7 linked regions of the Homo sapiens genome follow. The protein of the gene in region 1 purifies or fractionates together with the protein of each later gene. This does not show direct contact. Each region holds a gene or a part of one and is shown in the gene's direction. Other genes may lie near its edges. The genes, in order: FLCN, PIP4K2C, AGAP1, RAB33B, CREB3L2, RAB12 and RAB10.

Region 1 (3,500 bases):
AAGGCTTCGTTGGGAGGATCACTTGAGCCCAGAAGATTGAGGCTGCAGTAAGCCGTGATCGTGCCACTGCATTCCAGCCTGGGCAACAGAGCGAGACACTGTCTCAAATAAAAAAGATGGGAATAGTAGACACTGGGGGCTCCAGAAGGAGGGAGGGAGGGAGGAAGGGGAGGAAGGGCTGAAATGCTTTCTATTGGATACTATCTGGGCATATTACTTCCTGTGGTTCACTGTCTGGGTGACAGGATTCATAGAAGCCCAAACTTTAGCACCACGCAGCATACCCTTGTAACAAAGCCGCACACGTACGCCCTCAAGCTAAAACAAAAGTGGACCGGGAGGCCGAGGTCGGGGGATCATGAGGTCAGGAGTTTGAGACCAGCCTGGCAGATAACGGTGAAACCCCGTCTCTACTAAAAATACCAAAAAAAGTTAGCCGGACATGGTGGCAGGTGCCTGTAGTCCCAGCTACTTGGGAGGCTGGGGCAGAAGAATCGCTTGAACCCAGGAGGCGGAGGTTGCAGTGAGCCGAGATTGCGCCACTGCACTCCAGCCTGTGCGACAGAGTGAGACTCCGTCTCAAAAAAAAAAAAAAAAAAAAAAGTGGAAAAAAAAGAAACAACGTGTAGATCCTCGAGAACTGTGGCCGACTGGGTGTGTTCCGTAGACACGCTGTTGGCATTTTTCTTACTGATTTGAGTTTTCTCACCAGCAGAGAACAGCTGACGGTCTTTCCATAAGTGCTTCTAAGAGAGATGTGTGGTACCCCGGGCTAAGTAGACAGCAACTGAGCCCTCCCTCCCACCCCAGGGCTCCCAGAGCAACAGGGAGCAGGGAGCATAGGACCTGGCCGCAGCCAGGAATCTACACTGACCGGCTCAGCCCATGAAGTATCTTGGGCTGAAGTCACAGGATGAGACTGTTTGTATCTGTAACTGTCCTTGTCATCTGTCTTGCAGATTTAGAAGAGGAATCAGAAAGCTGGGACAACTCTGAGGCTGAAGAGGAGGAGAAAGCCCCTGTGTTGCCAGAGAGTACAGAAGGGCGGGAGCTGACCCAGGGCCCGGCAGAGTCCTCCTCTCTCTCAGGCTGTGGGAGCTGGCAGCCCCGGAAGCTGCCAGTCTTCAAGTCCCTCCGGCACATGAGGCAGGTAGGCGGCAGGGGCACAGCGCATCAGGAGCTCAGGAGGAGAGCCAGTCATGGGCTGTCCCTGCCCACACGCCTTGCCTCTGGACCCTCCACCTTCAAAACCCTGCAGGAAGTGACTGACAGCCTCCTCGGTGGGTGGCTGAGGGCACAGGGCGTTGGGGGTATTAGCCATAGGATCAGTGCTCCCCTTTCAGTGATGACCTAAGTATCTTCAAAGAAAAGCCCAGATAGTTGGCATCCCATGGTCCTCTAATCCTCTAAGAAGCTCCTAAAGGCATTGAACAGCACTGTAATTGGTTTGGATGCAGCCTGGACCCTGCCCATTGTAAGTGATGGTCTGGCTGGGCGTGGTGGCTCTCACCTGTAATCCCAGCACTTTGGGAGGCCAAGGGGGAGCGGATCACGAGGTCAGGAGTTCGAGACCAGCCTGGCCAACATGGTGAAACCCCATCTCTATTAATACAAAAATTAGCTGGGCATGGTGGCATGTGCCTGTAGTCCCAGCTACTTGGAGGCTGAGGCAGGAGAATCGCTTGAACCTGGGAGGTGGAGGTTAACAGTGAGCCAAGATGGCACCACTGCACTCCAGACTGGTGACAGAGCGAGACTCCATCTCAAAAAAAAAAAAAAAAAGAAAGTGATGGTCATTCTTACAAAAAATTAGGAACAACTTGCATATCAAACCATACTAGTAAACAGTAGCCAAACCATGGAATATGATTAATTAGAAGAAATAAAGCAGGCACTGTGTGTTCAGGGTGATGTATGTACATGTGTGCCTGCCAGACACGACAAAATCTAACAGTGTTGTCTCCAGTTACATCGAGTCAGATGCCGGGAGAGAGGGGTGTGGGTTGCTGGATTACAAGGGCAGGCTGCCTTCTTATAAAATTCTTCTGCATGAATTTTTCCAATGAGCACTGATTCATTAGAAGAGAGTTATTTGTTTTTGAAAATGGAGTGAGACTGATTTCATGGCAGATGTCCTTGGGGCTTCTGGATGTAAACACCCATTCCATCAAAATCCTGCATTTGGCTGAAACCTTCCTTGTCCGTTGCTTATGTTGATGAAGGTTGGAAGGGGTCTGGAATTCCTCTGGAGGTGGGACTACTTTGAGGCTGTTGGGGTTTGGTGAGACATAGTATTGTGGCCTCTCTCTTATGTTGTGTTTCAAAGCTGGGTTTGGCTTCTTAGAAGCCGTGAGACAGCAGGCTGGACTCTCCTAAGGTGTCAATGTCATGGAAGTTAATAACAGGTGGGGTGTGGGGAGAGGCTGTTCTAGGTTAAAGAATAAGGACGTGACAACTAAAAGCCATGATGGGTCCTGTAGTATCTCCTGGATCCAAAGAACAGCAGCCGTCAAGCAGGCAGCAGCCCTGGGCTTGTGCACACGGCTGGATGTCAGATGCGTCCGTCCAGGCACTCCTGGCTGCAGTCATGGTCTCAGCTGTGGAGATGCCCTTATTCTCCTGGGTGCTGCCATGTCGAGGGCCCTACAGCTTGCTTTCAAATGGTTCAGCAGAAAGTGTCTGTAGAGAGAAGGTGAATATTGCACAAAGTTAACATCTTTTTGCTTCAAATTTTTAAAAACAAAACTGGGAGAAAGATCTTGGAGCAAGAGCTTTGGAATCTAGCATTTATGTGCAAACCTGGAACTTCTCTCTCTGCCCCTTTAACCCTGGGCCGGGCACCCGCCTCCCTGAGAAGATAAGTGTCTTTCTCCTGAGCCCTGTCTTTGCTCTACAAAGTTTTATGAACACACAAATAACTTCATGGGAAGGGAGAGAAAAACCATTTCTACTAGTCACGCTGAAAGCACTGCACTCTCTTGTTTAGGTCCTGGGTGCCCCTTCTTTCCGCATGCTGGCCTGGCACGTTCTCATGGGGAACCAGGTGATCTGGAAAAGCAGAGACGTGGACCTCGTCCAGTCAGCTTTTGAAGTACTTCGGGTGAGAACATCTTTTCCTTAGGTGTGCGGCGCAGGGCAGTATTGGCCTGGTGCCTGGCGTCAGGTGGGGATGCCAAGGTGCACCGACTGCCCAGCACAGAACCGCTGTGCACCACACGGTCTCCACTGGGGGCGCAGTGGGCACGGAGACCCGGGTCTGGTCTGATGATGTTTAAATCATCAGAAGGATGCGTGTGCCTGCTGACTGCCCAGGCCTGAGAGGGAACAAAAATGCATATGACACAGTCTTGGTAAAAGCTTCTTTGTGGGATGCGGTAGGAGACAAACATCTGTGCAGGCAAACATTAATATGAGTTAACACCACAGAGCGAGGGGCGGTACAAGCTGGTGTGTGACTGGCGGTCCAGACAAGAGTTAGGGACCTGGTGGTGGAGGACCCT
Region 2 (3,500 bases), on another chromosome or scaffold:
TCAGTGAGTTGAAAATTTAACATCCTTCCCAAATGCAGAAATTAGTTTTGTGCAAGGAAACCATGAGAATAATTTCTGGTGTTCCCTATATCCTTATATGAATCAGTGTTATCTCTCCTCTAGCCTGGCAATTCCATAGAGTAAATATGTACAGATACCATTACCTGCTCTTTCTCTCTTTTTCTGCTTGTGACCTTGGAGATGCCATGAGAACCATTAGCTTCTGACAGGGACTCCTTGAAAGAAAAACTTGAATTCTCTACTAAGCCCTCCTAGGAAAAGAAGATGCCATTCAAAACAGTGGTGTCTGTTGCTGACTTTAGAATGCTTCTGACTTGCTTGAGATTTGGGAAATGCTGCTGTTTGGATGGGTAGTAGATCCTGGCTCTACTATACCACTTACCAACCATGTTACTTAGGCAGGTCACTGAATCACTCTGAGACAGTCTCCTCTTCTATAAAATGGAAATAATATGTTTTTATAGGACCTCACAAGGGCCAGGCGTGGTGGCTCATGCCTGTAATCCCAGCAGTTTGGGAGGCCAAGGCGGGTGGATCACTTGAGGTCAGGAGTTCGAGACCAGCCTGCAAACATGGCAAAACCCTATCTCTACTAAAAATACAAAAAATTAGCCAGGCATGGTGGCGCATGCCTGTAGTCCCAGCTACTTGGGAGGCTGAGGCAGGAGAATTGCTTGAACCCGGGGGATGGAGGTTGTGGTGAGCCGAGATTGCACCACTGCAGTCCAACCTGGCAACAGAGTGAGACTCTGTCTCAAAAAATAATAATAACAAATAAAAATTAAAAAAAAAGGACCTCACAGGGTTTTATGAGAATCAAATGAGGTAATATGTCTGAAGGTACTTTATAAACTACCAAGTGTATGTAAATGTAATATTGTTTGTTTTCTTACTTTGAAAACCTGAATTTCAGGGAAAATCTGCCCAGTCATTTCAAGTTCAAGGAGTATTGTCCCCAGGTCTTCAGGAACCTCCGTGATCGATTTGGCATTGATGACCAAGATTACTTGGTGAGAGTCCATTAAGGGGTGAGGGTAGCCCTTTCTCCCCAGCAACTGAGGAGTACTATTTGGGACAGCCATATTTGGAGAAATGAGAGTCTTGGCAAATATAATTCTTTACCTTTTTGTGATTGCAGCATTTTCAAAAATTTAATGAAAATTATAAACCTTGTCCTTGGGGGAAAAGATGTAGATACATTAAGAATTTTGGCCAGGCGCTGTGGCTCACGCCTGTAATCCCAACACTTTGGGAGGCCGAGGCGGGCAGATCACCTGAGGTCAGGAGTTCGAGACCATCCTGGCCAACATGGCAAAACCCTGTCTCTACTAAAGATATGAAAATTAGCCAGGTGTGGTGGCGCACGTCTAGTCCCCGCTACTTGGGAGGCTGAGGCAGGAGAATCACCTGAACTTGGGAGGCGAAGGTTGCAATGAGCTGAGATCGTACCACTACACTCCAGCCTGGGTGACAGAGCGAGACTCCTTGTCAAAAAAAAAAAAAAAAAAGAATTTTGCATTCAGTTTCCTTCAGTCCACATATGGACACCTGATGAGGAACTGTGCTGAATCTCCTACCCCAGGGATTCATCCACTTTCAGCTGACCATTTTCCTATGACTTGTTTCTGCATATAAAGAGGGAGGAAAAGAGCTCTGGCCTATTCTGTGTCCCCAGGTGTCCCTTACCCGAAACCCCCCCAGCGAAAGTGAAGGCAGTGATGGTCGCTTCCTTATCTCCTACGATCGGACTCTGGTCATCAAAGAAGTATCCAGTGAGGACATTGCTGACATGCATAGCAACCTCTCCAACTATCACCAGGTCAGGCCTCTCTCTAGCCCCATTCTTTCCCTCTCCTCCCTACTCACATATAGCTCAGCTATTGTCAGTAATAGATGCCAACTGGGGAGAAAACTCATTGGAAGAGAGAATCCATAATCATATCCAGCCCTAAATGGGATGAGGGAAGCTATTCTGTCTGATAAGATTTACAGGCTGGGGGCAGTGGCTCACACCTGTAGTCCCAGCACTTTGGGAGGCTGAGGCGGGAGGATCACCTGAGGTCGGGAGTTCGAGACCAGTCTGACCAACATGGAGAAACCCCGTCTCTACTAAAAGTACAAAATTAGCTGGGCATGATGGCTCATGCCTGTAATCCCAGCTGCTCAGGAGGCTAACGCAGGAGAATCACTTGAACCCGGGAAGCGGAGGTTGTAGTGAGCCGAGATCGTGCATTTGCACTTCAGCCTGGGCAACAAGAGCAAAACTCCGCCTAAAAAAAAAAAAAAAGATTAAAAAAAAAAAGATTTACTTGGAATGTGGAGTTTATGGAATGTTTTGGCAGTAAAAACACTCTTCTTGAACATCTCTACTGAAGAAAAATTTCACCAAAATCAGTGAGCAAGGAATACATCAGAGTCCAAAAGGAGTCTTTGGTTTATGCAACAAATATTGAATACCTCTTATTAGGCCCTATGTTAGGCAGTAGAGTAGGAGGTAAATGAAACATCTGTGGCCCTTACAGATCCCTTGGTCTGATGGCAGTGACCAGTGACCCAGTATTAGCACACCGCAAGATATATACAATAGTAGAAGTCTGTACAGAATATTCTGAAGCTAGTGAAGAGCATCCGAACTCACCTGGGGAAGGAAATGCACCTGGGAGGCTAAAGAGAGTTTTTTAGAGGAGATACTGTAAGAGTTGATCCTTGAAGGACTAGTAGAGGTTAACCATTGGACAGGGTGGAAGAGCATTCTAGGCAAAGGAAAACAGCACTTGTAAGGCACAGAGCCATGAGAGAACTTGGTGTTAGAAAACAGCAAGAAATTCCATTTGGATGGGATGTAGTACTGTGGAAATAGGCAGGAGCCAGATTGTAAAGAGGCTTATAAGCCCCACAAAGAAGTTTGGACTTTATCCTGAAGGTGGTTTTGCAAGGGGCGTGATATATTTGTTATTTAGAAATATTTAGAAAATGTGACAGCGTTTTAGAGAATGGATTGGTGGGAGGGAACACTGGAAGGGTGGATACCAGTTAGGAGGTAATTTTAATAGTCCAGGGTAGAAACAATGAAGGCCTGGGGGAGCGATGGTGGTGGGGATAGAAAGGAAGACCTATGGGAGAACTGAGAGTTAAGACACAGGGGCCTCCAAGTTCCTGGTTAGGGATAACTGGGTGCCTATTCACCAGAAATTAGAAACAGAGGAACAGGTTTTTGGAGGAAGAAAGTTCTGATTTGGACATACTGAATTTGAGGTTTCTGCAATTCATCCAGATGAGGATGTCCAGTAAGTGGTTGGGGTATGTGTACAGAATTCAGGAAAGAGGATTAGACTGGGAGTATAGGTTTGAGAATTATATGTGAGTAAGTGATCATTAAAACCATGGCTATAGATACGATTATTGTAGGGAGGTTGTGTGCAGTGAAATGAAAAGAAGGTTGAGGACAGAACCTAAAGGAACAAGTGAAGAAATGAGCC
Region 3 (4,298 bases), on another chromosome or scaffold:
CAGGGGTGAGGTCACAGCTGGAGATACATATGAGCTTCATTAACCTGTGTATGATATTCAAAGCCATAAGACAGGGGCGATCACAGCAAATAGCAAAGAAAAGAGGCCTAACCATAAGCCCTGGGGCCCTCCATATTTAGAGGTTAGGGGAGTAGAAGAAAACCACAAAAGGGACAGTGAAGCCAGAAACACAGCAGGAAGCCCTGGTGAGCACTGGGAGAAGGGGTTTCCAGGAGCGCAAGTGATCAGCTGCTGCTGATAGGTCAGGTTTGGTGAGGCCACATGCCTGCCTCTTGGTTACTAGAGTTACTTATGCGTGGACAGCCCGAGGCATGGAGTGATGACCTGTGCCTAAGTGTCAAGGAGAAGACAAGCAGGTCCGGAATGGTAAAAATGTCAGCACATCTTTGGGAAGTTGTGGAGCCCAGCCAGTAAGCCAACACGGCTGGATACCAGGGTGCTTAGGCCATAGCAAACTGCATGTGAGCCGGTGAAGGCTCAGCAGGCTTTAAACGGGGATGCCGGCCCGGCTGGCTGAGTTTCAGAAAGACCACGCCGATGGCTGGGGGCAGGGACTCAGCCAGTGTCCTCAATCCAGGACCTTGTGGGACCGCCCGGCAGCCAGTGCTTCCGCAAATCTGAAGGGTCCCATTTGCCTCAAAGCGGCGAGACGAGCCTTCCAAGCGCTGCTGCAGTGCGGTCCCAGCTCCGCGGGGGGTCCCCGGGGATGACCTAAATCGGGGATTGCGGTGGGACAGACGGTCCAGGGGCTAAGGAACCCCGTGGAGCAGGCAGCGGCGCTCAGGAGGCAGCAGCTTGAGATCCACGGCTCGATTTTTAAAAATTGTAAGGGAGAAGGATGCCTCGAAAGCCTCTGTGGTATTTTGTCGCATCTCGCACCCCTGTCTAAACTTCAGTCCACTCGTGGAGTGTGGACCCCCACGCCGCATGGGCTCAGGAGGCGCTTCGCCTTTGGAAAGAAATCGCATGTATTAAGGGAAAGCACGTGTGCTACTTTGAGAAAGGAGGCAGAAAGTTACCAAACGCGGGAAGGGGAGGCTCGCCAACCAAGCGAGGCCGTGGGACACTGGCGAGTCGCAGAGGCTCCTGGAGCCAGCCGCTTGGAAACAAACAACAACGCGGCGGGCGAACTCCCGGGCAGCCTCCCCCGTGCCGGGGCGCGGGGGCCGCCGCGAGAACCCGGGCAGGAGCTGGCAGGCGCGGGGCCTGGCCGGCGGGAGGGTCCCGCACCCCGGCCCAGTGTGAACACCCCGCGCACCCCCCTGGCCCGGCCCGCCGGGGGCGCGGACTACAAGTCCCAGGAAGCCCAGAGGCAGGCGCGGGGCGGGGCCTGGCGCAATTCCCCGGGATCCGGCGCGCTGGGAAGCGCCGAGGAGGACGCAGCGCCGGCGGCCGGAGGGCGGCAAGCGCGCGGGCAGGCGGGGCGCGGGCGCGGGCGCGGGCGAGGGCGAAGGCGGGGGCGGGGCCGACGTGGGCCGGAGCCCTGCGTGCCAGGGAGGGGGCCGGCCGGGCAGGCGGCGGGCGGCGCTCGGAGCGGGCTCCGCGGCTTGCAAGGCGCCTGCGACTCGGTCCCAGGTCGGCGGGCGGCGCACGGCGGGCTCGCGCGGGGGCCCCGGCGCGCCGGGCGGCGCAGTACGCAGCGCGCGGACCCACGCCACGGCCAGGAGCCCAGAGCAGCGCGGCCACACTGCCCAGGGGTCGGCCCTCGGCCCCGGCGCTCGGAGCGCGGCGGCTGCCTGGGCTTTAATGGCTGCTCCGCGGAGCAGCGCCTAGGGCTGGAAGGCGGCTGCGGCTCAGGAAGTCACCCGAGCAAGCCTCCTTCGGGGCCGGCCGCACCCGCCGCGGCGCGCTCCATGGGGGCGCGCTCCCCCCGGGCGGCCCGCTGACCCGGGACGCCGGGGCCCGCTCGCTCGCCGGCCGCGCGTCCCGGCCATGAACTGAGCCCGCGGGCCAGCCCCGCGCCTGCTCCGCCCGCGCCTTTCTTCTCGCGCCTCCTCCGCCCGCCGCCGGCGGGCCCGGCTCCCCGGGGGCTGCGGCGCCCCGGGCTCGGCGGCCCGCGGGCCCCGGGGCGCGGGGCGGCGGCGGCGGGGGGCGCGCGGCTCCGGGCGCGGCGCCTGCACCATGAACTACCAGCAGCAGCTGGCCAACTCGGCTGCCATCCGGGCCGAGATCCAGCGCTTCGAGTCGGTCCACCCCAACATCTACTCCATCTACGAGCTGCTGGAGCGCGTGGAGGAGCCGGTGCTGCAGAACCAGATCCGGGAGCACGTCATCGCCATCGAAGGTGAGGGCCGGGCCGCCTTGGGGCCTCGGGAAGGCACGGACGCCCGCGGCGCGGCGGGGGTGTGCGCTGTGTGCGTGCGGGTGTCCACACACGCCGGCCGGGGCACGCGGCTGCTCCGCCGAGGGAGCACTGCGGCGCTGCTTGTCTTGCAAGGCCGGGCGAGCGTCGCCTGCGCCCCGCCGCGCCGCGAGCTCCGCCAGGAAGATAGATCGTCAGCGTTAATTTGATCGTGGACAATAGAGTCTCTCCTGCGGGAAAGTGGCTCGGTGCCTCCGCGTCCTGGGCTGCCGGAGCGTCCCGGCCCAGCAGACGCCTGGGGGCAGCCGGCGGGGTCGGCGCCACCCGACCCCTGACAGGTTACCAGGCCAGGCCTGGGCGTCTTGCTGGACGTTGAAGACGTGTTCTGAGAAGTGCTGCCGCTGGGGGCGAGGCCCGGGCCGGCGTGTTTGGGCGGTGCAGGGCTGCCCTCCTTAGTGTGTTTGCTTAATTCAGGGGTGCAGTTGAACTTAGTGGATGCCGAGAGCCAGCCCTAGCCGCGGGAGCATCGTGTCCAGGTGCCCCTGTGCAAACGCTGGAACCGGTAGTGTGCTTTGTACCAACCAAAAGTCCGGGGTTGGATTAGAGGAAGAACCCTACCAGGAGGGCAGGGCGTCCTCCAGCGGAAGGGTCTCGCTTTCATATGTCTGCAGTTGGAGGCCACTGAAGTGGAGGGTGCTGTGGTTTTAAGAGGGGCAGGATGCTTGGGCAGAATCCCCACCCGCTTCCCTCTGCATGTCAGGCAGGGCCATGGCCTTCCAGGAGAGCTACAGCAGCAGTCTGCCTTCCGGGGCTGTGCCCTCTGGATTTCTGGTGGCTCTCATTTCTCTGTTTCCAGGCTGCTGATTTATTTTCTTGCTTCATCCCTTTGGTCCGGCCAAGACTCACCTGGGGCACCAGGTGGCATGTGCGTGGACAGTGTGGAGTCATATCTTAGCCACAGTTGATCAGCACTTTCTCCCTTCTCAGCGCTGTTGGCCAGTGATGGTAAAAAGCCTGCAGAGTGGCTTGTCCATAATACAGACTGGCCGGTAAGACCTCTATTGAGGAACATTGAGAATGGCCCAAAGCCGGCAGGAATGTGCCTGAAAGCCTGGTGCTGGCGTTGCCCAGCCTCCTCCCTCTGTGAGGGAGAGGGTATCAGCCCACAGAGAGGCTTTGCCTTGGCACTATGTAGTCTGAACTACTAACCCCGAAGTGCTTTGGTTTGAAACTTGGCCAGTTAGGTGGAGAAAGTGGATGTTGTGTTGCTGAGCCCTTGGCATTTGGCAGCCCTGTAGACTTGAACCATGTCCCAGCCAGGCTGGATGACTGGCAGACTATACCCTTGGGGGACTTGTTAATTCCAGGGGAGGATCCGGGTGGAGCTCCAGCCTTATGGGGTCCTAGCCCTTTGTGTGTATCTGTCTCCCATGAGGTCACCTGGCTGCCTTGTTGGTGACTTAAGATGCTCTGTGGATTCCTCAAGAGATGGGCTCTGTCTGCCTCTGCATGACTCGTGATGAGTGGCGGTGGGACCTGGACCCATCTGCTGATGATCAGGTGGTGTTGCAGCAAGGTTCCTCCAGAGCTCCAGCTCTGCGTCTGTTACGGGAGCTGTGAAGGCTGCACGGTGCTCATTTCAGATGGTTCTTCCTGGCTCTCTGGCTGCATCCACAGAAGTCTGATGAAACACTGTGAAAGCCGGCGTCAGGTATTGAAGGCACCTGGCTGAGAGCCTCTTTTGCTGCATGAAGACCTCTGGCTGAGTGGGGTTCACAACACCTCGTTTTTATTTCCCATTCTTGAAGCTGAGCTCTGGGGCTCAAGCACTTCCAGCAAAGCAGTTTGACTTTCTAGCAAGAGGATGTGGTTGCATTTTCCTTTCTCCCTTAAAAGAAAAAAAAAATGCGTCGTTCCTAGATGATGGTTTTTTTTGACAGCACGATGCCTACCTTTGCGATTTGAGATTTTAGGC
Region 4 (3,500 bases), on another chromosome or scaffold:
CAGAAAGCATGACTTAACAACAGTGCCCTTTCAGAATCCGTTAAAATGTTTTATGAAATTTAAGAAAGCCTATATCTGCTAATCCATTCCTAAGCAGTATGTGCAGGTAGTTGAAAGAGGAAAATCTTGTTTGCAAAATTTTGGAAGTCGAATAAAATTATAAAATTAAATTCCTTAAATACAAATACATTCGGCTTTTAAATTGAGACTCCTAACTCTAATCCTTATGCTCCTTCCTCGTGTGTATATCCCCTTCATGACTAATTGTATTCCTTTAGCACAATCATTTTCCAGTGGCAGACACACCAACCCATTAAAGCCTGGTGTTGTATTTAATCCGGCCTCCCATTAGAGGTCAGCAGGTCCTACTTGAACATTTTAGTAGCTTACTTTTTTGTAGCGGTAGAAATGAAATGTTCCCATGTTAAGTGCAAAATGTTAATATTAACTAAAGGAAAATAATCAGGACCTCTCCCCACACTGGTAAAACAAATATTTAATGAGTAATTGCTGGAAAGAAGACATTTTGATAAGCACAGAGAATTATGATACGGCACAAGGGTCAGCAAACTATGCTTGAGGGCCAAAAATGGTCTTTTGCCTGTTTTTACATGGCCACAATCTAAGAATGATTTTTTACATTTTTTAATGTTTAGGGAAAATATCAAGATTTCATGACATGAAAATCATATGAAATTCAAAATTCACCTAGGTTGTACTACTTTAATCCTTCTTATCCTTGTACTCTCACCCCTCTCTTTGCTCTGAGTCCAATTGGTTTTCCACCTGCACACTTTCTATTAACTGTCTTGTCTTCAAAATTCTAGTTCAAGTCCTTTTTTTAACCTCTCTTTGAACTGTTGCAGCAGCTTAACAGTTACAGCAGCTTAACTGATCTCCCAGTCCTCAATTAATCTATTTTGTACATTGTTGCCAAAATGCCCGATTAATGTTGTACTTCAAGATTTATCTCCCCTAACTCAAGTGCCCTTTATATTATATTCTCCATTATGTTATAAAGTTCCAGCTGGGTGTTGTGGCTTGTGCCTGTAGTCCCAGCTACTCCTGAGGCTGAGGTGGGAGCATTGCTGGAGGTTCAAGGGTACAGAGCACTATGATCGAGCCACTCCAGCAGAGCCAGACCCTGTCTCTGTCTCTCTCTCTTTTTTTTTTAACACGTTTATTTTAGGTTCAGGGGTACATGTGCAGGTTTATTGTATAGTTAAACATGTCACAGGGGTTTGGTGTACAGATTATTTTGTCACCCACATATTTTGTCACCCACATATTAAGCATAGTACCCAATAGGTATTTTTTCTGATCTTCCACCTCCCACCTTCCACCCTTCAGGAGGCTCCAGTGTGTGTTGTTCCTGTCTTTGTGTCCGTGCGGTATTTGGTTTTCTGTTCCTGCATTAGTTTGCTTAGGATAATAGCCTCCGGCTCCATGTTGCTGCAAAGGACATGATCTTGTTCTTTTTGTGGCTGCATAGTGTTACATGGTATGTATATACCACATTGTCTTTATCCTGTCTACCATTGATGGGCATTTAGGCTGATTCCATGTCTTTGCTATTGTAAATAGTGCTGTCATGAACATACATGTGTAGATGTCTTTATGACAGAATGATTTATGTTCCTTTGAGTGTATACCCAATAATGGGATTGCTGGAGCAAATGATAATTCTGTTTTTAGCTCTTTGAGGAATCACACCACTTTCCACAAGGGATGAACTAATTTACACTCCCACCAGCAGTGTATAAGTGTTGTCTTTTCTCTGCAACTTTGCCAGCATATGTTATTTTTTGACTTTTTAATAATAGCCCTTCTGACTGGTGTGAGATAGTATCTCATTGTGGTTTTGATTTACATTTCTCTCATGATTAGTGATGTTGAGCATTTTTTCATATGCTTTTTGGCCACAGATATATCTTCTTTTGAAATGTGTCTGTTCATGTCCTTTGCCCTCTTCTTAATGGGGTTGTTTCTATTAAGAACAAATCCCATCTCAAAAAAAAAAAAAAAAAACCTTCCAGCCAGCCAGATTCCAGTGACTCACACCTGTAATCCCGGCACTTTGGGAGGCCAAAGATCACTTGAGCCCAGGAATTCAAGACCAGCCTGGGCAACATAGTGAAGCCCCATCTTTACCAAAAATTTAAAAAAATCAGCCAAGTACGGTGGCATGTACCTGCAGTCCCCGCTGCTCAGGAGGTAAGGCAGGAGGATTGCTTGAGCCCAGGAGTTGGAGGCTCTAGTAAGCCATGATCACACCATTGCTCTCCAGCCTGGGCAAGAGAATGAGACCCTGTCTCTTAAAAACAAAAAAAGAGTCTCCTCACACCTCCAGTCAGCTTCCTTCTATGAACTCTTTTAGCACCTTACCTGAACCTTTAGATGATTTCTATCTCATTGCATACATACCTGTCTTACCTCCCTTACTAAGTTTTATTCAGGGCAGGATCCATGTCTGGTAATTCCATAGACTTCTTTCAGTGTCTAGTTCAGTTCTTTTTTTTTTTTTTTCTTTTGAGACAAAGTCTTGCTCTGTTGCCCAGGCTGGAGTGCAGTGGCATGGTCTCAGCTCACTGCAACCTCCGCCTTCAGGTTTCAAGCAATTCTCCTGCCTCAGCGTCCCAAGTAGCTGGGATTACAGGCGCCTGCCACCCCACCCCGCTAATTTTTTGTATTTTAGTAGAGACGGGGTTTCACCATGTTGGCCAGGCTGGTCTCAAACTCCTGACCTCGTGATCTGCCGCCTCGGCCTCCCAAAGCGCTGGGATTACAGGCGTGAGCCACCGTGTCCGGCCTAGTTCAGTTCTTAAACCACATAGTAAGTACTCAGGGAAAAGTGTTGAATATATAGAGGCAGAGAGATCAGTTGGTAGGGTACTCTGGAAATCCAGAATTGAGGTGATAAGGGAAAATAAAGGGGTGATAGAAGAGGTATTTTGAAGATAAAGCCAAAGTCTTCAGTAACTGGCTGTTGGTGATGAGAAAGAAGAGGACTAGATGAGTGAGGTTGTGAGTCTGGGTGACAGGAGGTAGGTAGTGGAGCTAAGGGGGACTACGTGGAAGATTGAATTTGGACAGGCTCTGTAACATTATGATTTAGTCATGTGTTTATTGAGATGATCCTATATTCAAATGGAAATACTGATTGGCAGCTACAAATACCGGATTGGCACACAGGAGAAATAATTATGCACATGAAGTTGAAGTTTGGAAGCACGGATAGAACAAAATGTAGCTAACATGCCTAGAGAGAATAGTAGAAATTTTGTTAAATTTTTTTATGGCATGATGAAGATGACATTCAGTGAATGCTGTGTAAATATAAAATATAAATTGGGTTACTAATTATTGTTCTGTGTTGATCTTCATTAAAAGTAAATTAATGTTTATAAGTCAAAAAATATTTTATATGAAGTCACCTTATACCCTACCTTAAAACAGAATCAAATTGATACTTTATTTCTTAAAATGTGGTATTGGTGGTT
Region 5 (4,090 bases), on another chromosome or scaffold:
TAGGACCAGACAAATGCAATAGTTTATATGATAAACTGCTGCTTTAAAGACAACATAGAGTTCAAAGACATTTGTCTCCACCCGCCAAAAAATACTTGCCAAGGAAACAACACAATAGCTAATACCTGAATGTGCCATTGTAAGAAACTTCTAGAGCTAACTGGCAAAGACCTGCTTTTATATTTAAGATAGGTAAACTATATTTTTGGAATTAAAAAGGAGGAAGAAGAATCACAGTGTTCGGGGGAATTCCTTTAGAACAGGCCATCTCTTCCCTATTCTAGGAGGCAGGCCTGGTGCTCTGGCCCTGGCTCACCTTTCTGGCCTTTCCCACCCCTCCCTGCCAAGCACCTCTGCTGCAGCCACACTGGCCTCCCCAGCAATCACGTGAATACCAGCTTCCCCCGAAATCTCATTTCCTTTAGGAAGAACTTCCCTGATCAGCACGTAAAATAGCATCGATCTTGACGCATCCTGTTTTCCTGCTTTTATTTTTCTTTATAGCAATTTCCACTTTCTGAATTTAAATGTTTATTTCTTTGTTTATTGCCTGACTCCTCTGAGATAAAAGCTCTATGAATTCAAGGACTGGGCTCACTTCTGTAGGACCTGGAAAAGCATGCCATTGACTCTTATCAAGCAGATGAAAGAAAAACATACAATAAGTGAAGTCCATAAAAAATAGAAGAACCCAACAGAAAATGGGCGAAAAAGGTGAAGAACAATGACAATTTCCTAGAGCTGCACTAATATAAATGTATGTGCATGAGGAATATTTGTATTTTTGTATAATATGTAATCCATTAAAAAAATTCCGAGAGATTCAAATGAACTAAAGTACTCGAAAATGTTTAAGCCCCCCGCGCAACAACTCTCGCGCCCCCTGTCGGCGCGCTGGTAAATTTCTGAGGATTCTCAGCAAGAGGACTGAACTCACCCTCCCTCTTTTACAAAATGTATTCTTGTCGCTATTTCATTGGCTGTACCTTTCAGACGCCCCTTTCACATTAGTCAAGCCTCCAGTCCATCACTTCCGGACCCAAGCCCTCTATTGGTCAGCTGTAGGCGACAGCAGACAGCGGGCCGCGCTCAAGCAGGAGGAGTTCCTCGGTGACGTCACAGACACTCCCCGGCTACATTCCAAGGCGTGGGCGGAGACTTCCCGCGGCCTCTGCCTTTGGGGGCGGGACAAAGCCGAGAATGAGACTTCTGATTGGGTCTGCTAGGCAAGGCGGATATCCAATTGGTCAAGCCTTGGAGGGAGGTGGGGCCGCAGCTGGGTCCTGGAGCAGAGCCGAGGAGCCCTGGGGTCCCTCAAAGTTTGTGTCTGGAGCCGTAGCGGCAAGTGGGCTTGCGGCTAAGGGATTTTCCTGGGATGAGAGCGGGTCTTCTGCCTTCATTTTGGATGCACATCCCGCTTTAGCCCCGGCAGCCTTTGGTCCGGCTCGTGTCCCTGGGGATTCTCGGATCTCCGAGGACACCGGACGGGAGCGCTTGGCCATCCTCTCTCCGGCAGAGGAGCAGACGTTTGCTTTCCAAGTGCAAAACTACAGACACGCGCGCGCACACACGCAAGCACACGCGGAGAGAGAGGAACCTTGCCGGTCCGAGGCAGCTCTGCGCGTCCCCTCCTGCGCTTAGCATCCTCGGCCCAGCGCGGCCCGCACCGCCATGGAGGTGCTGGAGAGCGGGGAGCAGGGCGTGCTGCAGTGGGACCGCAAGCTGAGCGAGCTGTCAGAGCCCGGGGACGGCGAGGCCCTCATGTACCACACGGTGAGGACCCGGCGGGCGGGGCAGGAGGGCTTTCAAAGCGGGCAAGTGTTGTCACGCGAGGAGCAGCTGGAGTCCTGGGACCCGGGAAGGCAGGGTTTGGGGCAGGGCATGGTCAGAATCAAGAGGTCCTGGGCGAGGTGTACTTTAATGTCTGAGCAGATGAAGGCGGGCAGCTGGCCCCTTTACATTTCTCATGAGAGTAATGCCACTTTGTATTCCTTTAACAATTCATGCTTTTTTCCCTGAGGCTTTTTCCATCTGTAATATCATTTGCTGTTGTTAACAGTACTGTAATGCGGGAGAGGGAGTGTGTGTTTTGAGAATAACATGCCTCCGCCTAGTTTGCTATTGATTTTTTTTTGAGGTTTTCAAAAACTGGACAAGATTAAGTAGCATTTCCTTTTCATCTGTCTCGTATTCTCTCTCCCTCTCTCCCTCCCTTCCTCTTCTTTCATATTTATATTTTAAAAAGTACACGTGTGTGTGTGTGTGTGTGTGTGTGTGTGTGTGTGTGTGTGTGTTGAAAGGGCTCCTCTACGTTAGGGAGAAAGGCGGCTTTATTTGCTTTCTTAAACTGTACGACCAAGAAGTCTCCTTCCTCCCTCTTCGGAGGAAAAACCAGCAGAGGAGTATGGAAAATCTGAGACAGTTGCATATTTAAGAAAGGCTCTGGGGAAGGTGGGACAGCTCACCAGTTGCTTGTTCAGTCTTATACTAATGCCTCAGAGATCTCTTGGGGGATTAAGCTGTCCCAGAGCACGCACATTTCTTTTAAAGTTTTTAATGTCAAGTTTTTGGTATTAAGTTTGCAAAATGAAATTTTGTTTTCAATAGCCAGCACTGATCATAGGACTTTATGCAAGATCTCTTTGTTTGATTCTTATCCATGCAGACGTTTGTAATGGGGGTGGGGCTGGGGTGAGGGGGGACACTAATGAGAAAACCACTGGAGGCTTGGCTGCTTCCCCTTCACGCTTTTTTAATGGGGTCAGTACCAAGATATTTGAAACTTTCGCAAAATGGCCTGCAGGCTCCACCTCTTTGGCCTTTGACTCTGGCTGACGTTATTTTGAGACAAGGAATGAGGGCCTCCCTGCTGATTCCCACCGAAGTATTTGTGGTGGCTGAGAGTGGCTTGTTTAAAAAAAATGCAGAGTGCAGGGCTGAGAGGGAGTGGTAGTTCATGCTGGGGCAAAAGCCAGATGTTCAGTGTGATCTTCTGGGCTTTGCTTGCTGAGCTTGTCATGGGGACACTATGTGGGCAGCACGGAGGTTGGGGTACCAGATGTGCTTCCTGTCCTCAGTAAAGAACTTGGAGTATGTTGTTCCTCAAATATCTTTTGATGAATGGGTGCTCCAGGAGTTTCTACTGACAGGCTACATTTTATCCATATGCAGAGGGGCAGCCCTTCTCTTTTGTTCTTGAAGTATTCTTTCGCTGTGACAGTGTCTCATCCAGCAGCTGCAATGCCACAGCTAGGGGGTTGTCTTTCAGCTGGTGGGATGAATTACGCACAGGCATCTACCTTGCTGTTCTTTGGCCCTGTAGCTTGCATTTGTGAGTTCACAGGGAAAGGTGCGAGATGCTACCCGTGACTGTGGCATTCACTCTGGGAAGAACTGCTTGGACTGGCTCTAACTAACACCTTATGCACACTTTCAGGGAGTAGAGGCCTTACATTTGCTTTGATATTAACAGCCCAGTTTTTCTGTCATTGTGATAAAGCAGGAATGTGTGATTATTTTTCTTTTATTTCTATTTTTAAAAAATGCTTATTATGTCCTCCACTTAGGTACATGTCTGTTGTGAACAGCTCATTCCTGTAAAATGCTGCTCATCATTGCTGCAAGTCAGTGCAACAAACTGTGCATATGAATTACTGTTGAAAGAGGTATTGGTTTAGCAGCACAAATGATTGGGTTATATTTCTCTCAAACTAAGGGACGTTTGGGAGAGGTGGGGAGATAATTTTCCCATCTGTTTCCTGAACTCTGTTAGATATCCAGGGGCAGAGCTGTTTGTTACTCTAGCTGAATCTTTATGTAGAAAAAGGATGGCCTGATTATTCATTCAGTCAGAGAGATATTTGTTCTTTCGATTAATATTTGTGGAATATATAAAGCACTTGGAAACATGAGTGAACAGAAGCAGACAAAATCCCTGACTTCTAGAAGCTTATATTCGTGTGTGTGTGTGTGTGTGTGTGTGTGTGTGTGTGTGTGTAGGGGAACATAAACAATAAACATTATAAAGAAGTGATTATGTTGGATGAAATAAGTGTTATGGAAAACGTATAAGTAGAACAAGGTGAGGGGG
Region 6 (3,224 bases), on another chromosome or scaffold:
CCCACCCCCGTTTTTCTGTGAGAATTCAGTTGGAGACCTAGCCAAGTCTGCAGGTGTCTTAGCGGAAAAGAGAGCCCCGTGGTGCTGCGCTTGCATCCCTTCCTGTTCTGCTCCCTGGTGGGAGCCACTTCCTTACAGAGACCTTTCCATGATGCTGAGTTGCAAGAAAATTGCTAGACAGCTTCATTGAGCAGCAGCAGTTTCTTCAGGCATCTTTAGGCTTACATTCAAAAATTGTTAATAAGAACTGAAGTTTATGTTATTAAGTGAAATTTGCTCAGTTCATACATAATTCAGAAGCTTCTAATAAAGTAATTGTTTAGGCTGGGTGTGGTAGCTCACACCTATAATCCCAGCACTTTGGAAAGTCAAGGTGGGAGGATCACTTGAGGCCAGGAGTTCAAGACCAGACTGGGCAACACAGTGAAGCCCCATCTCTACAAAAAAAATTTAAAAATTAGCAAGGTGTAGTGGCATGTACCTGGTTGTAGTAATCCCAGCTACCCAGGCTGATGCAGGAGGATTGCTTGAGCCCAGGAATTTGAGGAATTTGATACAGTGAGCTATGATCGTATCTACACTCCAGCCTGGGTGACAGAATGAGACACTGTCTCTATTTAAAAAAAAAAAAAAAAGTTTATATAATTGCCAAGGTAGGTTATGTCTGTCTTTAGTAAGTATGCAACTCCTTGGAATGCAGACCATTTTTAAAATTTATTAATGTATTTTTATTTTGCCTGGTTCTGTGAAAATATATGTTTATGAGGTTGATCTGTTCTCTTCTACCATAGGGTATTAAGCAGGCTGGGCATTGTTCATGTTGTGATATGAAGTGTCTTGAACATGGCTTTTTTTGGCTTAATATTTTAATGTCTAATTGATCTTTAACGATCGGAGGACTTTCAATAATAATACTTTTTTTTATATAATTGTATAATTTGGAAAGCATTTACAGTTGACCCTTGAACAACAAGGGGGCTAGAGGTGCTGACCCCCTAAACAGTCAGAAATCTGAGTATAACTTGACTCCCTAAAAACTTAACGACTAAAAGCCTATCACTGACTGGAAGCCTTACTGATAACATAAACAGTCACTTAACACATAGGTTGTATGTTATACGTATTTTATACCATGTTCTTAAAGTAAGCTAGAGAAAAGAAAATGTTATTAAGAAAATCATAAGGAAGAGAAAATATATTTACTATTCATTAGTGGAAGTGGATCATCATAAAGGTCTTCATCTGTGTCATCTTCACATTGAGTAGGCTGAGGAGGAGGAGGAGGAGGAGGGATTGGTCTTGCTGTCTCTTCCGGGTGGCAGAGGCGGAGGAGAAGGTGAGTGGGGAGGCAGGAGAGGCAGGTGAAACTTGTATTGAAAAGCAGCTGTGTATAAGTGGACCTGTGCAGTTGAAACTCATGTTCAAGGGTCAGCTGTATGTGTACCTTGTAAAGTTAAAACGGATTTTTTTTTGTTTGTTTATACGTTAGATGCCTCTGGATATTTTAAGGAATGAGTTGTCCAATAGTATCCTGTCGTTACAACCAGAGCCTGAGATACCGCCAGAACTGCCTCCACCAAGACCACATGTCCGATGCTGTTGATTTCCTACTTTGGAGACAAAGTGGAAATGATTCCTGGAAAGGGGAAAAAACGTTCTATTCTGCACTACAATCATTTTGACAATTTCCTTTCGCACTTTGTAATCCAAGTCAGAGCTATACACTAACTTGTAAATATGCATATATGCAATCCTGGGTAAGTTTTGGTTATAAGTTACCTATTTCCCTCCAAATTATTATATTTCATTCATTACCCCAGTGTCTAGTGTACATACACTGGGAAACCTAGTACTTCTAATATGAAGAATGGGAGAAATGAAAGGTATAATGTTTCTTGAAATAAATAATATAATTGTCCTTATTAATTATATTATGAGGACAGAAGATATTCTGATAAGAGAGAACGTGGTGCTTTGCTTACCGTTTTAAAGAAAATTTGTAAAACTAAAGACTTTTTGAAAAAAAGCTATCTTAAGTGCTTTTTCTTTATTTACAAGACATTTCCCCCAGTGGTAGCATCTGAAGTATTGGAGTGTTTCTGCCACGAAGCAAAGCTCCATTCATGGCCGTCATGGAAGGTTATTTATTAATGTTACATAATGGTAGAATATTACTAGTTAGAGGGTTGGATTTGACTTGGTCCTAAGGCCACAGAATCTCTCTCATGGCTTCCTAAGGGATGTACCTTTATGCTTTTAAGAACTACAAAGATTCAATAAAGAAAGAAATGTTTTTGAAACTATAGAAAAAGATTTTAAAACACGCTGCTGTCCTAAACAAATCCTGTTTAAAGGAATTTTAAAGAGATGCATTTTACTATATCAAAGAACATACGTGTATTTGCCTAAACACTCTGTACCTTTGTAATGATAAAACTTCCCCCTTCTTTACGGTGAAGCTTATTCTGATTAAGCCTAGACTGTGTTCTTTTTTTTTTTTTTTTTTTTTTTTTTTTTTTTTTTTTTTTTTTTTGGTCTGATGATGAATTTGTGAACTCTATCTTTGGTATATCTTTTATTAAACTGCACTGTTTTGTTTAGTCAAGGTAATTAAGTAATTATGTATTTGAATAACTTGGTGTGTCTTGAGTGTTGTGGTATGAAAAGCATTGTGGTCTTTCTACACTAATGAAGTGCAAATAAAATTTTGTATTTATGAATGAAGTTGAGTTGCCATATTTATTTATCCAATTATAAATTGTATATATGACAGTATTCTCCATGAGCTCCACAGCTTAATCCTTTTGAGTGTTTAGACAGGAAAAGCATAGTCCTCCACTGGGGAAAAGAGTTTGATGTTTTCTCAAAGGGCTGAACATAGAGCTACCATATGATCCAGCAATTTGACTTCTAGGTTTATATCTAAAAGATCGAAAGCAGAGACTCAAACAGGTACTTGTACACCAGTGCCCACGGCAGCATTGTTCACGAGAGCCGAAAGGTGGAAACCGCCCCAATGTCCATCAGCAAAATAATGGATAAACAAAATGTGTGTTCTACAAACAATGGGATATTCATCCTTAAAAAGAAAGGAAATGCTGTCACATGTGCAGCGCGGATGAATCTTGAAGACATTACGCTGAGTGAAATAAGCAGGCCCAGAAGGACTGATACTGCCTGATTCCACTTACATGAGGTATATGGAGCACCCAGATTCATAGAGA
Region 7 (3,500 bases), on another chromosome or scaffold:
TTTTTCATGTTATAGAAATATAATATTGCTTCTAGGCATTTTGAAATATATGGAATACTAATATAGTAAAAACCTAACTAAGAAAATAGTTCCATTGCATGTGAAAATGTTGTTTTTTTTTCTGTATTTTGGGTTTTTTTGAGATAGAGTCTCACTTCATCACCCAGGCTGGAGTGCAGTGGCACAATCTTGGCTCACTGCAATCTCTGCTTTCTGGGTTCAAGTGATTCTAGTGTCTTAGTGTCTTGAGTAGCTGGAATTACAGGTGTGCACCACCACACCCGGCTAATTTTTGTATTTGTAGTAGAGATGGGGTCTCGCCATGTTGGCCAGGCTGGTCTTGAACTTCTGGCCTCAAGTGATCTGCCCACCTTGGCCTCCTGAAGTGCTAGGATTGCAGGCATGAGCCACTGCACCCAGCCTGATGTTACTTTTTATAAGTTAAAATTATGTATCAAAGCATGTCTGTTTCTTTGCTACAGCATAGGTGGCTTCTTGTTAAGAGTTGTTTTTCATGCCTTATTGCTACCTTCTAGGCTTTGAGTTTTGTTAACAGTAACTCTTTGAAGCAAATTTTGGCCAGATACACAAAGACCAAGTCTTAAACCAATATTAGACCCAAGATAATACCCCTAATGGTAGCAATCCTAAGGGCTCATTACCACTGTTTTGTTGCTACAATAAATCTTTGGGAGAAGCTTATTATTTTTTAATAATTATTTAAAGATACACAGATCTTGGCTGGGCGCGGTGGCTCACGCCTGTAATCCCAGCACTCTGGGAGGCCGAGGTGGGCGGATCACCTGAGGTCAGGAGTTCGAGACCAGCCTGACCAACATGGAGAAACCCCGTCTCTACTAAAAATACAAACTTAGCTGGGTGGGGTGGCACATGCCTGTAATCCCAGCTACTTGGGAGGCTGAGGCAGGAGAATCGCTTGAACCCAGGGGGTGGAGGTTGCAGTGAGCTGAGATCACGCACCATTGTACTCCAGCCTGGGCAACAAGAGCGAAACTCCATCTCAAAAAAAAAAAAAAATACAAATCTTAAAACAAAAAAGCTTTATTTTGATTTCCTTATTCTTTATTTTATTGTTCAGGTAAGTAGTCTGTAGTAAGAGCAGTTTAGAGATTCTGCAGTGTGTTTCCAACAACCACCAATTCTCTGATTCTACCACATGAACTGGTGTCCTGCTATTCAATGCTATTCTGACACTGACTACCCTGAATTAGTATCAGACTCCACAAGTTTAAGGACTCATTCCTACAAAATTGCCCTCACTTGAGATGCCATTTGCAAGTCCTGGGTCCCCAGGCTTACCCACATTTCTGCCTTCTGTCCAAGCTGGCTATAGATTTTGGGGATGCCAACAATGCCACTCCATGTGATCATTTGCTAGGGTGAGTCATAGAACTTAGGAAAATGCTATACTTGGGATTACAGTTTCATTATAAAGTATACAATTCAGGAACAGCCAAATGGAAGAGAGGCATATGTGGGGAGTAGCGGCAGGGCTCCAGAGCTTCCATCCCCTCTCTGGATACGCCACCTCTCCCAGCACCTTGATGTGTTCACCGAATTGGAATATTCCTTACCCTCAGTTTTTCAGATTTTTGAATTGAAGTTCCATCACTTAGGCATAATTGATTAAATCATTGACTTCTGGTGATTGAGTGTAATGTCTGTCTCCCTTCCCCTCCTAGGAGGTCAGGAAGTGGGACTGAAATTTCCAATCCTCTTATCACTTGGTTGGTTCCTCTGGAGACCAGCCCCCATTCTGAAGCTAGATAGGAGCCTTGTCATCAGTCACCTCATTAGCATAAACTCATTATAGTCAAAAGAATCTTGTTATGAATAACAAAAGACAACCCTGTCACTCAGGAAATTGGGAGGTCAGTGACAGGAACTGGGAACAAAGACCTAATATATGTTTTTATTATACCGCAGACTTAAACATCTGACATGGTAGACTGGATGGTTTGTTTCCCAAGATAAACTGAGAAACATACAACCCAGGTATCAAAAAGGAAAATTGTGGGTGTGGTGGTGTACACCTGTGGTCCCAGTTACTTGGGAGGCTGAGGCAGAAAGATTGCTTGAGCCCAAGAATTCAAGGCTGCAGTGAGCTATTATCATACCACTGTGCTTCAGCCTGGGTGACAGAGTGAGACTCTGTCTCTGAAAAAGAAAAGAAGTTATTTAAAAAGAAAATCTTGGCCAGGCGCAGTGGCTCATGCCTGTAATCCCAGCACTTTGGGAGGCTGAGGCAGGCGGATCACCTGAGGTCAGGAGTTTGAAACCAGTCTGGTCGACATGGTGAAACCCTGTCTCTATGAAAAACACAAAAAATTAGCCGGGCATGATGGTGGGCACCTGTAGTCTCAGCTACTCAGGAGGCCAAGGCAGGAGAATCACTTGAACCCAGGAGGCGGAGGAGGTTGCAGTGAGCCAAGATTGCACCACTGCACTCCATCCTGGGCAGCAGAGTGCAACTCCGTCTCAAAAAGAAAGAAAGAGGAAATCTTGTTTCTCTGGTGTATTAAAGGATTATATAACATGATCAAGAGGAACTTACCCAGGAATGCAAGGGTCAGAACCTGTCAATGTAATACACCATATTAATAGACGACAAAACCATACAGTTATCTCAGTTCACACAGAAAAAACATTTGACAAAATCCAACATTCTTTTATGATTAAAACAGTCAGCCAAACGCAGTGGCTCACACCCGTAAATCCCAGCACTTTGGGAGGCCGAGGCAAGTGGATCACCTGAGGTCAGGAGTTCGAGACCAGCCTGGCCAACATGGTGAAACCTCGTCTCTACTAAAAATACAAAAATCAGCCAGGTGTGATGGCAAACACCTGTAACCCCAGCTACTCGGGAGGCTGAGGCAGGAGAATCGCTTGAGCCCAGGAGGTGGAGGTTGCAGTAAGCCAAGATCGTGCCATTGTGCTCCAGCCTGGGCGACAGAGCAAGACTCTGTCTCAAAAAAAAGTCAACAAACTAGGAATAGCAAAGAACTTCCTTAATCCTGTAAGTGACATCTATAAAAATACCACAGCTATTATTGTACCTGTCCCCTAAGATCAAGAGCATGGCAAGAATATCTACTCTGGCCACTTCTGTTCAACATTATGCTGAGTTCCAGCCAGAGCTAAAAAAAAAAAAAAAAAGAAAGAAAGAAAAAAAGCCATCCAGAGTGAAACAACTATTTATAAATGGTAGAATATTTTATATAGAAAATCCTTAAGAACCCACAAACATATACCCAGAAAACTCTTAGAACTAATAAACAAGTTCAGCAAGGTTACAAGAAATGAGATCAACATATAAAAATCAGCTTTATTTCTGTACACTAGCAATAACCTAAAAATTACATTGAGAATAAATTTCCATTTGTAATAATATCAAAAGGCAAAAAATACTTAGGAGTAAATTTAACCAAAAGAGTGTAAGACTTGAACACAGAAAACCACAAAATATTGTTGAAAGAAAT

What was found.
Region 2: the proteins of FLCN (region 1) and PIP4K2C purify together in Homo sapiens (affinity purification with mass spectrometry, with the first as the bait; one study listed by BioGRID). This does not show direct contact.
Region 3: the proteins of FLCN (region 1) and AGAP1 purify together in Homo sapiens (affinity purification with mass spectrometry; 2 studies listed by BioGRID and IntAct, with this or other methods). This does not show direct contact.
Region 4: the proteins of FLCN (region 1) and RAB33B purify together in Homo sapiens (affinity purification with mass spectrometry, with the first as the bait; one study listed by BioGRID). This does not show direct contact.
Region 5: the proteins of FLCN (region 1) and CREB3L2 purify together in Homo sapiens (co-immunoprecipitation; one large-scale study listed by IntAct). This does not show direct contact.
Region 6: the proteins of FLCN (region 1) and RAB12 purify together in Homo sapiens (affinity purification with mass spectrometry, with the first as the bait; one study listed by BioGRID). This does not show direct contact.
Region 7: the proteins of FLCN (region 1) and RAB10 purify together in Homo sapiens (affinity purification with mass spectrometry, with the first as the bait; one study listed by BioGRID). This does not show direct contact.

What each region holds. Positions count from the first base shown.
Region 1 is NC_000017.11:17,216,669-17,220,168, reverse strand, and holds part of FLCN (folliculin), read left to right. Parts: exon of another isoform or gene 1-602; intron 603-959; coding exon 960-1,150; intron 1,151-2,986; coding exon 2,987-3,100; intron 3,101-3,500. UniProt on the Homo sapiens protein: Multi-functional protein, involved in both the cellular response to amino acid availability and in the regulation of glycolysis.
Region 2 is NC_000012.12:57,594,192-57,597,691, forward strand, and holds part of PIP4K2C (phosphatidylinositol 5-phosphate 4-kinase type-2 gamma), read left to right. Parts: intron 1-934; coding exon 935-1,031; intron 1,032-1,696; coding exon 1,697-1,840; intron 1,841-3,500. UniProt on the Homo sapiens protein: Phosphatidylinositol 5-phosphate 4-kinase with low enzymatic activity. May be a GTP sensor, has higher GTP-dependent kinase activity than ATP-dependent kinase activity. PIP4Ks negatively regulate insulin signaling through a catalytic-independent mechanism.
Region 3 is NC_000002.12:235,492,545-235,496,842, forward strand, and holds the start of AGAP1 (arf-GAP with GTPase, ANK repeat and PH domain-containing protein 1), read left to right. Parts: upstream 1-1,498; 5' UTR 1,499-2,142; coding exon 2,143-2,305; intron 2,306-4,298. UniProt on the Homo sapiens protein: GTPase-activating protein for ARF1 and, to a lesser extent, ARF5. Directly and specifically regulates the adapter protein 3 (AP-3)-dependent trafficking of proteins in the endosomal-lysosomal system.
Region 4 is NC_000004.12:139,457,121-139,460,620, forward strand, and holds part of RAB33B (ras-related protein Rab-33B), read left to right. Parts: intron 1-3,500. UniProt on the Homo sapiens protein: The small GTPases Rab are key regulators of intracellular membrane trafficking, from the formation of transport vesicles to their fusion with membranes.
Region 5 is NC_000007.14:137,999,287-138,003,376, reverse strand, and holds the start of CREB3L2 (cyclic AMP-responsive element-binding protein 3-like protein 2), read left to right. Parts: upstream 1-1,290; 5' UTR 1,291-1,671; coding exon 1,672-1,773; intron 1,774-4,090. UniProt on the Homo sapiens protein: Transcription factor involved in unfolded protein response (UPR).
Region 6 is NC_000018.10:8,636,660-8,639,883, forward strand, and holds the end of RAB12 (ras-related protein Rab-12), read left to right. Parts: intron 1-1,489; coding exon 1,490-1,603; 3' UTR 1,604-2,724; downstream 2,725-3,224. UniProt on the Homo sapiens protein: The small GTPases Rab are key regulators of intracellular membrane trafficking, from the formation of transport vesicles to their fusion with membranes.
Region 7 is NC_000002.12:26,110,584-26,114,083, forward strand, and holds part of RAB10 (ras-related protein Rab-10), read left to right. Parts: intron 1-3,500. UniProt on the Homo sapiens protein: The small GTPases Rab are key regulators of intracellular membrane trafficking, from the formation of transport vesicles to their fusion with membranes.